2 separate regions of the Homo sapiens genome follow, and region 1 is linked to region 2. Evidence: fine-mapped expression QTL. A gene starts in region 2. The other region holds a variant in brackets. All regions are shown on one strand. Distances are from middle to middle. Region 1 overlaps PEBP4 (phosphatidylethanolamine binding protein 4). Region 2 holds the start of PEBP4 (phosphatidylethanolamine binding protein 4).

Region 1 (5,374 bases), 44 kb after region 2:
TGGGCCACTGCTCTGGGGCAGCAGGATGTTTGGGGGCTACAGTCTTACCCCAAAGGGCTGCAAATGGCAGGGTCCTGCATGGCTCCAAACTGAAAGAGGTTACACCTCTCCCTGCCCCTGCATGTTGGCCTTGACCTGGACTTGACATGTGCTGAATGCTTGCTACATGATTCCATTTAACCCTTACACCTCCATGAGACAGGCATTGTTTTCAGCTGCATTTTAAAGATAAGAAAGTCTAGACTTGGGGAATTTAAGAAGCCTTCAAGGTCCCACAGCTGCTAACTGACAAGACGATGGGATGTATTACACGCCTGGTCAGATTCAATGGCTGTGAGGTGTGTTGAATTTCCTCTTGACCAGCATGGATGGAAGAGCCGCCTTTCGCCTCTTCCAGAACTGTGCCGTGTTTCTGAACTCCATGGTTGGTGGCCGCTTCTGATCACTTCTGTCTTGCCTGTCTGTAAAGTGCAGAAATAGACCCTGAACGCCTGTGGGAAGAAACGCTTACTCATTTGACAGTCCTAGCACCGAACAGATAGTTATTCTGGAGCAGGGAGTCAGTATTTGTCTAGTAAGGGTTTCATTGTTGAAGAAATGATTGATGAGTGAGCAAGTGAGTGAATAAATGAATCAACAGGTGAGTACAACTTCCCTCCTTAACCCGTAATTCCATGTTAGTCACAGGAGAGAAGTGAGCCTGTCTCCTGCAAAAGGATGCATAAGTCAACCCTGCAGGCGGTCTGTGACTAGGAAGCCAGGAGGCCGGTTCTTGGGGTGGCCTATAAGCTGGTACGAAAGCAGTTCCCAAACTCAGGTGCTCCCCTTCTCTTGCACACAGACGGTGTGCCTGGGACACAGAGCTGGCTTCCCAAGAGGACCTGGTGAATACCCACGAGGCGTATTCATCTGCATGCATGAGTCCTGACTTCTTTCAGAAGCTCTCTGGAGACCTTGGGCAGAGTAGCTTCACTAGCAACAGTGCTGAGGACGCCAGGAAGTGGAGATGTTGTCCACAGACTGTCTCTTGTGTCCTTCTAAGCTGGGCATCTTCTGAGGCTTTTTCACACTGAAACGGAAGAGCACAGCTCCTTTGCTTCAGGCAGAAGGTGAGTGCCAGCTCCCTCACATACTCGGAGGACTCACAGTTACGTCGTGTGCCTGGTGCTGGGGACCAGCAGCAGGTGTAACCCAGCTCGGCAGTCATAGCAGGGAAAGGCCAGTGCCAGCCTGCTGCTTGTACTTGGTCGTGGAGGCAAAGGGCGGGTGCTGGAGTCTGCCAGACCTGGGCTTGAATTCTGGGTCAGCCCTGTACTATCTGTGTGACTCTGAGAAAGTCATCTAACCTCCTGAGCCCCAGTTTCTTCATGCGTAAAAGGAGGAAATAAGAGAAACCATCTCATGATTGTTGGAAAATTTAGATGAGATGATTTATGTGAATTCCTCAGCACTCATAAGCTCTCAATAAACAAGAGCTCTCTTTATGAACTGGCATCAAGCAAGGACGGTGTTCATCTCCTGGGGCCGGGTAATACTCATTTCAGTATCGTCACAGTCTCCTTGCATTGCATTGAATGCACCACTTGGTGCAAAAAGCTTCTCTTCTTACTGCCAACAAGTGTCCACTTCATTTGGGGAGAGTGCATTGAACTCTGATAGATGTAACCTGATAGTTATCTCACAGTAAGTGCTGCTGTGATTCAGGATGGAGATAACACCACAGGGTGGGGCTTTCTGGAAGAGGTGAGCTTGGCCATACTTTGAAGGATGGGCAGGACTTGAATGAGCAGAGATTAAAGGGGAGAGTTTTTTCAGGTGAGATAAAGGGAATAAGACAGATCCCAGACCAGGAGGCAAACATTCACATTGGAGGATGCAGCAAAATTAAGGAGAGGACATTGGGAGAAGAGAGAGAGGATGTTGAATTGAACTTATGTGAAGGCTGGGGACAAGGAAGAAAATGCTCATCGGGGAACAAAGGAAGTCAGAAAGCACCCCGGGCTGGGGGAAATGGCCCTTTGTCAAGGGGGTGGATGCTGCCTTTGGAAGAGGTTCTTTCTTCTCCCTTTCCCCCTCTTGGTGCTCTCAAGTCATGCACTGAGTGAGTCTTGTCAACCAGCTCTTCCCTGATTAACTCTCCTCCCGGAGCCTTAAGTCACGATCTGCACTTGCTTCTCTGTAATAGCCAGGTGAACCGTGCCATCCCACTAGGAGAGAAGAATGCACATCCTGACATTCTAATAGGCTCAGCAGCAAAGACAGTGCTATCATCGTGGTGGTGACAGCAGGCTCCAAGCCCTGCCAGGTAGTTTTCACAACTTTCTAGTCATCCTTGTCTTATTAATTAGGAGAGTCTATCTCATAGATTTGGGGCTATAAATCTCAGATAACAGCTCTTCAACCTTCATAACTGCTTCTAACTAGGTGGTAGAACCAGGTGCATTTCATCTTCATTTTAAAGAGGTCCCTGTGTCTGCTCTCTGTGTGGGAGCCCTCTCTGCAGGATGGGAGCAAGAGGAGCTGCTGATGATGGCAGGCAGCGGGACATTTTCTACGTGGCTCTTCACTGGCCTCCAAAATTGCCAACTCTTCAGCCCTTAAGTCAAGATGCATCAACTCCAGCCCCTTCCCTGGTTCCCTTCTCAGATTGGAGGACACGTGTCCGGGCATCGGAAGCCTTTGCACTCCAACATAAATATGTGTGAACCCTGGAGCGGAGAATTGGTGAAATCAGCTGATGGTGGAGTTGTCCCC[C/G]CTTTTTTTTGTATCCCCCGCAAATAGTATACAGTAATCAAAATTTAAGCCACCTGAGATGAAATAATTGCTTAACAATCATATAAGACAAAATGATTCAACAAATGACAATGAGGCCCTGTGATATACAGAACAGATGCATTCAGTGTACCATATTATAATGCGCTAATACAAGATTGACAGCACAATAATAGGAGTGAGCAGCAACTCAGCCTATAATTCCAAACCAAATGTGAGGCTGTCCACGGAACTCAAATCCTAGCAGGCTGCAAAATTAGAGGTAACACCACGCAAGGTTCAAGACGACTCATTAGCAGGTTGGCAGAGTGTTTCAGGAGCAAATTTTTCTGTCGAAGGAACTAATTTTGTGCCACCTTCAGCTCACCTTTTTTTTTTTTTAAGTGTGCAGATACAACCTTCCCTGGAGAGGGATGTGGGGGTGGGAGGTTGAGATCTGGCCAGAGCCCCTTGGGGCACAGGGAGATCAGGTCACTGGTGTGGGTTTTTGAGTGGGTTTGAGTATTGGGACAGTGATCTGGGTGTGTTAATGGGTGATGCAAAGCAGTGGTGATGTGGCAAACACTATGCAGGCTGATCTCAGTGTGAGAAACTGATGGGACTTTCTGCTGCCTCCTTGGGGCTGTTCTCACATCAGAAAGTGTTTGGATCAAGGATATAATGAAGGATAATTGTGATAAGCATCCTTCCAGGTCCGAATCTCTGAACCTTTAAGCAAGCATCATAATCCCTGCTTTCTATAGATGCCCCTGTTGTTTTGATGGTGTCGGGGATTTGTTTTAATCAGGTGTGGGAAGACATGCAGACACAGAAATGGCTCTCATGAAGGAGGAAGTTTTATAATCACAGATCCCTAGAGGCAGGGGGTATGTCTCGCAGGGCCACATGGGGGATACCCCAGGCTCGGTTGGGAGGCAGAGGGAACTAGGGAAAAACCTGAGTAGGAGTCTTCATCGTGGGAGGAACAGGTGGGGTAGGGTGAGCAGGGTTGGGTTGGTTAGTATGAATCATTTCAATAGGCTCTGGGTATAAGGACTGTTCCTAGTGGTCTAGTACCCACCCTGGGGTGGTTTGGGCAGGTGGATAGTGGCCTGGAGTGTAAAAATCTGATAGAGGAGGTGGTTGGTGGTATGGGCACTGGACTGGTAGGTTTTCATAAGCAAATTGTTCTCACAGAGGAGTTTCCTATTTCTAGGAATTAGCCCTGGGAGGGGCAGTCCCTCCAGGATCAGTGAGGCCCCAAAATGTCAAAGCACAAAAATTACAGAATAAAAAGACACGATTAATACACCTTCATAGTTTCACATTTGCGGCTGCTTTCTCTCCGGGAGCCACGGTCCCTTTTCTGCCAGTTTGAGGCCTCCCTCTGTTCATGATCAAAATAGGGCATGGTAGCATCACCATGCGTGCATGACAAAAAGTCGTGGTACATTCTCCACACCACCCCAAATCCTGGATCTGTGAGGTCAAGAAAGAAAAGCACCCACCTCCCTTCAACTGGGACCCCCTGCTGGCTCCGCCCCCCTCTGCTCAGTGCAGGGCTGCCTGGGTGTGGCCAGCACTGTCTGGGTCACTGGTGCTGTTGACGCACACTTTCCTAGAGTTGGACTAAGACATCCCATGTCTCCAGTTCTGCCAATAACAGGCTGTGGGCCTTGGCAAAGCTGCTGTGATTTCCTGTGTCCCCATTTCCTTCCCTGAAAAGTGATAGGATGGATCCCAGTTCTAAATGCTTATTTTCTCTGAAGAACTGGGGAAAGGATAGGGAGAAGCAGGAAAAAGGTGAATGAGATGGAGGGCTGGGGGGTTCTCTAATCTTCACAGAAAACCAGTGACAGCCACATGTTGGAGAAGCCTCCCAGGTATCATTGACAACCCCTTCCTCATCTGCCCCATTGAGCCAGGGATGGCAGTGATTCAACACCCACAAGGTAGCCAGGCTTCTACGCTTATTACCTTGAGTAATTCTTACAACAGCCTGAGGACAGAGTAGCCACTCTCAGCACCATTTTACTGCTGGGGAAACTTAGGTGTGGAGAGGTTAAGTCAATAGTCCCCACCTGCTCACGGCCACACAAGTAGTAATGGAGCGTGGCCTCCCACTCCACAGTTTCATCCCTAATTGCTGTATGCTACTGCCTCCCTCTGTCATGGGCAGGATCATCCATGTAGGACTGGATGGCTTGAGTGTGATCCAGGCAGCAACAGAGATTCATTCCAGGGGGAGTTATTCCAAAGAGGGAGAGTGAATCCCAAAGGAGAAGCATTGCCCCATGGGGAGAACGCTATTTGGAACTTAAGGGATTTCCACTAATTTCTTCTCTTAACAAGTATTTTGTGTCTATTAGATACCTGGCATGGCTCTAGGCACTGGGGACATACAACTGCGAGTGAGATGGTCCCAGTCCTGCACTCAGGAAGTTTTCAGCCTGGCAGAGCAGGACAGACATAAGAAAAGTGAACAGATAAATACAGTAGCTGCAGGAAGCCCGAGTCTGAGGGGCTCTGGCCTGTCTGCATCCAGGTCTGTAAGTTGGCCAGCCTTGGACACTTGGAAAGGCACAAGTCCTTGTAGGTGATAGGAAGGTCTGAGGAGCCAAAA
Region 2 (5,374 bases):
CTTGAGGAACCCGCCAGAGGTAACATGTGAGAGGAAGAGGAAGTCAGCTAGAGAGACAGGAAAAGCCTGATCTCGCAGGGTATTGTGGTCCACGTGAAGGACTCTGGGTCCTTCTCCCAAGAGCAAAGGGAATGTAGAGGGAGTGAGTGAGAGGCAATGGAGCAGCTACAGAGTGCAGTGGAGCCAGGTGGTTAAGAGCGTGGACTCTGGGCTGGGCGCGGTGGCTCACGCCTGTAATCCCAGCACTTTGGGAGCACACAGGTGGATTACTTGAGCCCAGGAGTTCGAGACCAGCCTGGGCAACAATGCAAGACCCCGTCTCTACAAAAAATACAAAAATTAGCCAGAGCCGTGGTGTGCCTGTACTCCCAGCTACTTGAGAGGCTGTGGCAGGAGAATCCCTTGAAGCCCAGAAGGCGGAGGTTGCAGGAGCCAGCATCACCCCATTGCACTCCAGCCTGGGCGATGAGAGTGAGACCCTGTCTCAAAACAAAGCATGGACTCAATGGACTCAACCCAGTTTCCACAGGTTCAACCAGAGCCTGGGGTTCAAATTCCAGGTCTGCCACTTCTTGGTGACCAAGATCAGGTTTTAACTAATGTCACTGTGCTGTCTCCTCCTCCATAAGATGGGGTGATAATAGTGCCTATTTCCAAGGATTGGCATGAGGATTCGGAGATAAAAGTGCCTGGCACGTGGAGTAAGGAAGAACCGCCACTGGAAGTGGGCTCAACAGCAGCAACCTGCACTGTGGGCTCTCCCTTCTTCCAGGCCGCCATCACTGTGCTAAAGGAGTTGACACCCAGAAAAGTTGAGACTTCTCTAGTGGATGCCATTTGGAAGATGAGTTTCTTGGTCTTGGGCAGCCCTTCTGGCAGCATCTCCTTGGCTGTGGCTGTCCTGTGAGCTGCATGCTCAACCTATACCCCAGGGCCCAACATGGGGCAGGCACGTGGGAGGTGCTTAATGCCTATGAGTGAAGTGGGTTGCAAAGGAATGAATGAATGGATGGATCCGTGAGAGAATACTTAGACTATTCATAAATTATTGAGCATTTACTATGTGCCAGGCACCTTACTGAGGGCTTAACCTGGTTGATTTCATTCTCATAATGATCTTGTGAGGAGGCTACTATTAGACTCTGTCCACTAGGGGAGATCTTGGGAATATGTTTTCTGGTTGGGGCAAGGGGGAGTCCTGGTTGTACTTCAGAGAACCTAATGATTGAGAAATGTGTTTAATATGTAGCCCCTAAGGGGGGCTTTTTGCTACAGGTTGGGATCCTGGAGGCAGGAATTGAGCCAGAAAGCAGACTATGCTGAAAGTAGTTTCTCTAAAGGTCTAGCTGCGTGTACTTTACAGCGATGATCTCATATTCCTTAGCAAGGCACCACGGTGACAGGAATTATTTTACTTGTTTGTGAAAAGGAAAAGTGGTGCATTCTAGGGAGACACAGTGGCCTCCCAGCATCCAGAGAGAGCTCAGAGCAGAAGCCAGGAGTCCTGAGTTGCTGGCACGTCTCTCCCACCCCCGCCTCTGAGAAGCAGAGAGCAGAGCTATTGGAAAGCCTGTTGCAAGCCGCCTTTATTCTTCTCCCTGCCCACTCAGGCTCAAACCAGAGTCCCACATGCACCTGGTGGCAGGACTGTTCCCCAAGGGAATGCAGGCGACAGTCCCCGGCTCCCCTTCCTCCCAGTGCACTGCTGGGGCAGGCCACCCCTTTCTGAGCCCCAAGCAGCTCCCCAGACCTCCTTCTCCAGATACGATTATTTTGGGAGAGTGCTGAGTGCAGCACAGCTGCAAGGTGCACCCAGACGCACCCTTCTGTCCTCAGCTGGCCCTTCGGAGCTGGCCCTTCGGAGCTGGCCTCGGTCTGGGGTGCACCTACCCCCACCCCCTGCAGCAGTCCCTCCTACACAAGGTCACTGTGTCCAACCACCTCCACCTTGGGGAAGCTCACAGGCTGTGGAGACAGGTGGTGGAAGAATGGGGGCCAGGAGAGTCAGAGCCGGTCTGAGGGGCACAGCCCAACTCCTAGCCCTGAGCCTGGGGTCACCAGCTTCCCAGGGCTTGCCTTACAGCCAAGGAGCAGGCTGGCCTTTGGCCAGCTGACCATCCCTGGGCCAACAGCAGGGACTGGACAAGGAGCTGCACCGAGGAGCTTATATAAGCACTTCTACTTTGCAGCCTGCTCTCTGCCCTGGCAGCCAGGACAAGAGTGACAACAAAGCTGTGTCCTGCCAGGGGAGGGGCCTCTGCCAGGAACGTACATTGAGTCCAACTTGGAAGAGGCCCAGTCCTCCCAAAGTACTTGTGTCCGGGTGGTGGACTGGATTAGCTGCGGAGCCCTGGAAGCTGCCTGTCCTTCTCCCTGTGCTTAACCAGAGGTCTCTATCCTGCCAAGTGGGCCCCTGGGGTCGGGGGCACAGGTAGTGGGCAGGAAGGCCCCTGCAGGGGATCCAGCCGCTCTAAAGTTCTTTCTGTTCCAGGTGCCCATGGGTTGGACAATGAGGCTGGTCACAGCAGCACTGTTACTGGGTCTCATGATGGTGGTCACTGGAGACGAGGATGAGAACAGCCCGTGTGCCCATGAGGCCCTCTTGGACGAGGACACCCTCTTTTGCCAGTAAGTCAGGGCAGGCTTGGAGGCGGGAGGCACAGAGGCTACCAGGCAGGTAGATGGCAGGGAGGGGTATATCCAGAACCAAGAAGCACCATCTCCTGAGCCTGATTTTATGGGAAGGCAGAACACGTGTCAGATCTGGAGACCACCTTGATGGAGGATGGCACTGAGAAAGGGATTTAGAAACAGACTCCTTCCTGCCTTCCAGAATGCACCTCTCCCAGGACCAGGAGGGCTGTGTATGTGGTCGGCTCTGCTTGGGCCCTCCAAACCTGGGGGGTCTTTGTGGGGGCAGGAGGCTGAGACCCTCAGAGAGAGACCCAGAGAGAGACCATCCCTCCCTGCAGCCTGAATGCCCCCTCTCCCCAGAACCCCAACAAAGAGGCATTTGAATGAAAGAAGGTGTATGATTAGACCCTTCCTGTGTGAGAGGTTTTTGTCAGTGATAGGACCCAGGAGCGTTTGTGCAGGGCCCTTTAGGGATCATGGCACTGGATGGAGTTGGGTGACGAGGCTGGCTTCTTCCCTTCCAAGGGCACAAGCTGCTTCTACTTTGGGTAAGCTGGAAAGCCTGGCGTTCGGCTCTCTCCTCACCAACTCTGCCGGTTAGAAAAGCAAGCCTTCATTTGTGTGGACTTGTGGGTCATCCTGAGGACTCCCCAGGCCAAACTGATGCCAAACCTCCCTGCCAGTTTGGTGGCTGAGGAGGGGGACACCCCACTGAGCCCACGTGTGAGAAATGAGAGAGGAGGAAAAAGAACTTTGACTACTTACTCTCTTCTGTACCTTTGAATTTTCACAAACATTACTGTTCATGAAAATGTTTGTTTTTCTTTTTAATTTTATTTAAAACATTTTTGACAAACATTACTTTTAGAACCATAAATACATGTCTTCTCTTAAAATTATGTAGTTGAATCCTTCTTAAAAAGTAACATTTTTGTTGGGTGAAGTGGCTCACATGTGTAATCCCAGCACTTTGGGAGGCCAAGGTGGAGGATCACTTGAGCCCAGGGGTTTGAGACCAGCCTGGGCAACATAGAGAGACTCTTTTCTCTACAAAACAGTTTAAAAACTAGCCAAGCATGCTGATGCACACCTGTCGTCCCAGCTACTCAAGAGGTTGAGGTGGGAGGATCGCTTAAACCCAGGAGGTCAAGGCTGGTCTGAGCCATGATTGCGCCACTGCATTCCAGCCTGGGCAACAGAGCCAGACCCTGCCTAAACAACAACAACAACAACAACAAAAAGTAACAAACTTTGTTCGTGTCAGTATATTTTGAAAAATCTTGTTAAATAGTTCTGGGTGTAGGCTGGGCACGGTGGCTCACACCTGTAATCCCAAGACTTTGGGAGACTGAGGCAGGCAGATAACAAGGTCAGGAGTTTGAGACCAGCCTGACCAACACGGTGAAACCCTGTCTCTACTAAAAATAAAAAAAAATTAGCCGGGCATGGTGGCGCACACCTGTAATCCCAGCTACTCAGGAGGCTGAGGCAGGAGAATCCCTTGAATCTGGGAGGTGGAGGTTGCAGTGAGCCGAGATTGCGCCACTGCACTCTAGCCTGGGCGACAGACCAAGACTCTGTCTCAAAAAACAAACAAAAAAACAAACAAGCAAGAAAACAGTTCTGGGTGAAGTTTTCACGTGGAAGGAGGAAGAGAAACGTGGTTGCCTCTCACAAGTGGGATCTAATTTTCTAGGTGCTCTGCTGAGTGAGCTGAGGGGCTGGCAGGCTTCTCGCTCTGAGCAGTGCAAGGTCAACACCCCCGTAACCAGGAGAGGTCAGCTGGGCCAGGGTACAGCAGGCCTGGGCCACAATAAGGGCCCCTTAAGGAGGACCTCAGCAGTTCCTGGTGTTTCCCACACTGTGGGAAATGAGGATGTCTGTAGGGTCATTGGGGGTGACCAGCCTGAGGCTCCAGATGCCCTAGGCTCTGCCCTGCCAAGATCACATGTTGGTGCCCTGGTGACCCATGCATGGGGACACACGTGGGAAGTCCCAGGGCACCTTCTGTGTGCCAGGTGCTCTGCCGGTGCCTGGACTCCTTGACTCCTTTCACTGTCAGTAACGAACCTACAAAGTCTGTGTTAGCACCCCCATTCTGCAGATGAAGAATCCCCAGAGATTAAGAAATCTGCCCACAGTGTTTACATAGCTTAAAAGTAGCAGAGCCAAGATCTAGCCCCCTTGTCTGACTCCACACTCACGCTCTTTCCCTATCTGCTTCTGACAACCTTCACCCCAGGTTCAGGGCTCCCAGACTCGAGTCAAGGGGGCCCATTCTCAGGACTCCCAGAATACACCAGCAGGCCCCCAGTCTGAGAAAGAGACTTATGACCTTAAGGTTGCATGCCAGGAAGATGTCTTTTGATTTCAAGCCATCATCGCAAAAGAGGAGCTTTGTCTTTATTGTCACTGAAGATTTTTGTTTGGAAGAGAGCATCATGAATGATGATGAAATGAAAAATGCATCAAGGACAGATCGGACCCCTGAGGAGACAGCAGGACCTCCTGCACTGACCCCTCCTCAAGATCCCCACTCGGCTCAGGCTCTGACCTTGGCAAGAGATCCCCCAGAGAAGGCACTCCTCTTGTGGGCATTTGGTCTACCAGGGAACTCTTAAAGATTGGACTCAATGCCTAAAGGTATTAATCTATAAGGGAGGAATTTTATGTACTGTGACAAGCTGTGAGACATTGTTAAGAGTAACGCTTCTCGGGAATCAGACCTTCCCTGCTTCTG

What was found. PIP is the estimated chance that this variant, and not a neighbour inherited with it, causes the effect.
Region 1: its variant is fine-mapped to the expression of PEBP4 in pancreas (GTEx, PIP above 0.99).

The regions. Positions count from the first base shown.
Region 1 is chr8:22,881,292-22,886,665 of GRCh38, reverse strand. All of the region lies in intron 3 of PEBP4 (phosphatidylethanolamine binding protein 4), which reads left to right. PEBP4-AS1 (PEBP4 antisense RNA 1) reads right to left here. Exons shown (of 4, transcript NR_125433.1): 3 at 1-2,708. Among named protein-coding and RNA genes, the nearest start is that of PEBP4-AS1, 6.0 kb to the right of the region's middle. RefSeq lists an enhancer at 3,236-3,295. The variant C/G (reference allele first, on the strand shown) is at 2,755.
Region 2 is chr8:22,924,838-22,930,211 of GRCh38, reverse strand. PEBP4 (phosphatidylethanolamine binding protein 4) reads left to right here and starts at 2,298. Exons shown (of 7, transcript NM_144962.3): 1 at 2,298-2,389; 2 at 2,492-2,628. The coding sequence starts at 2,498.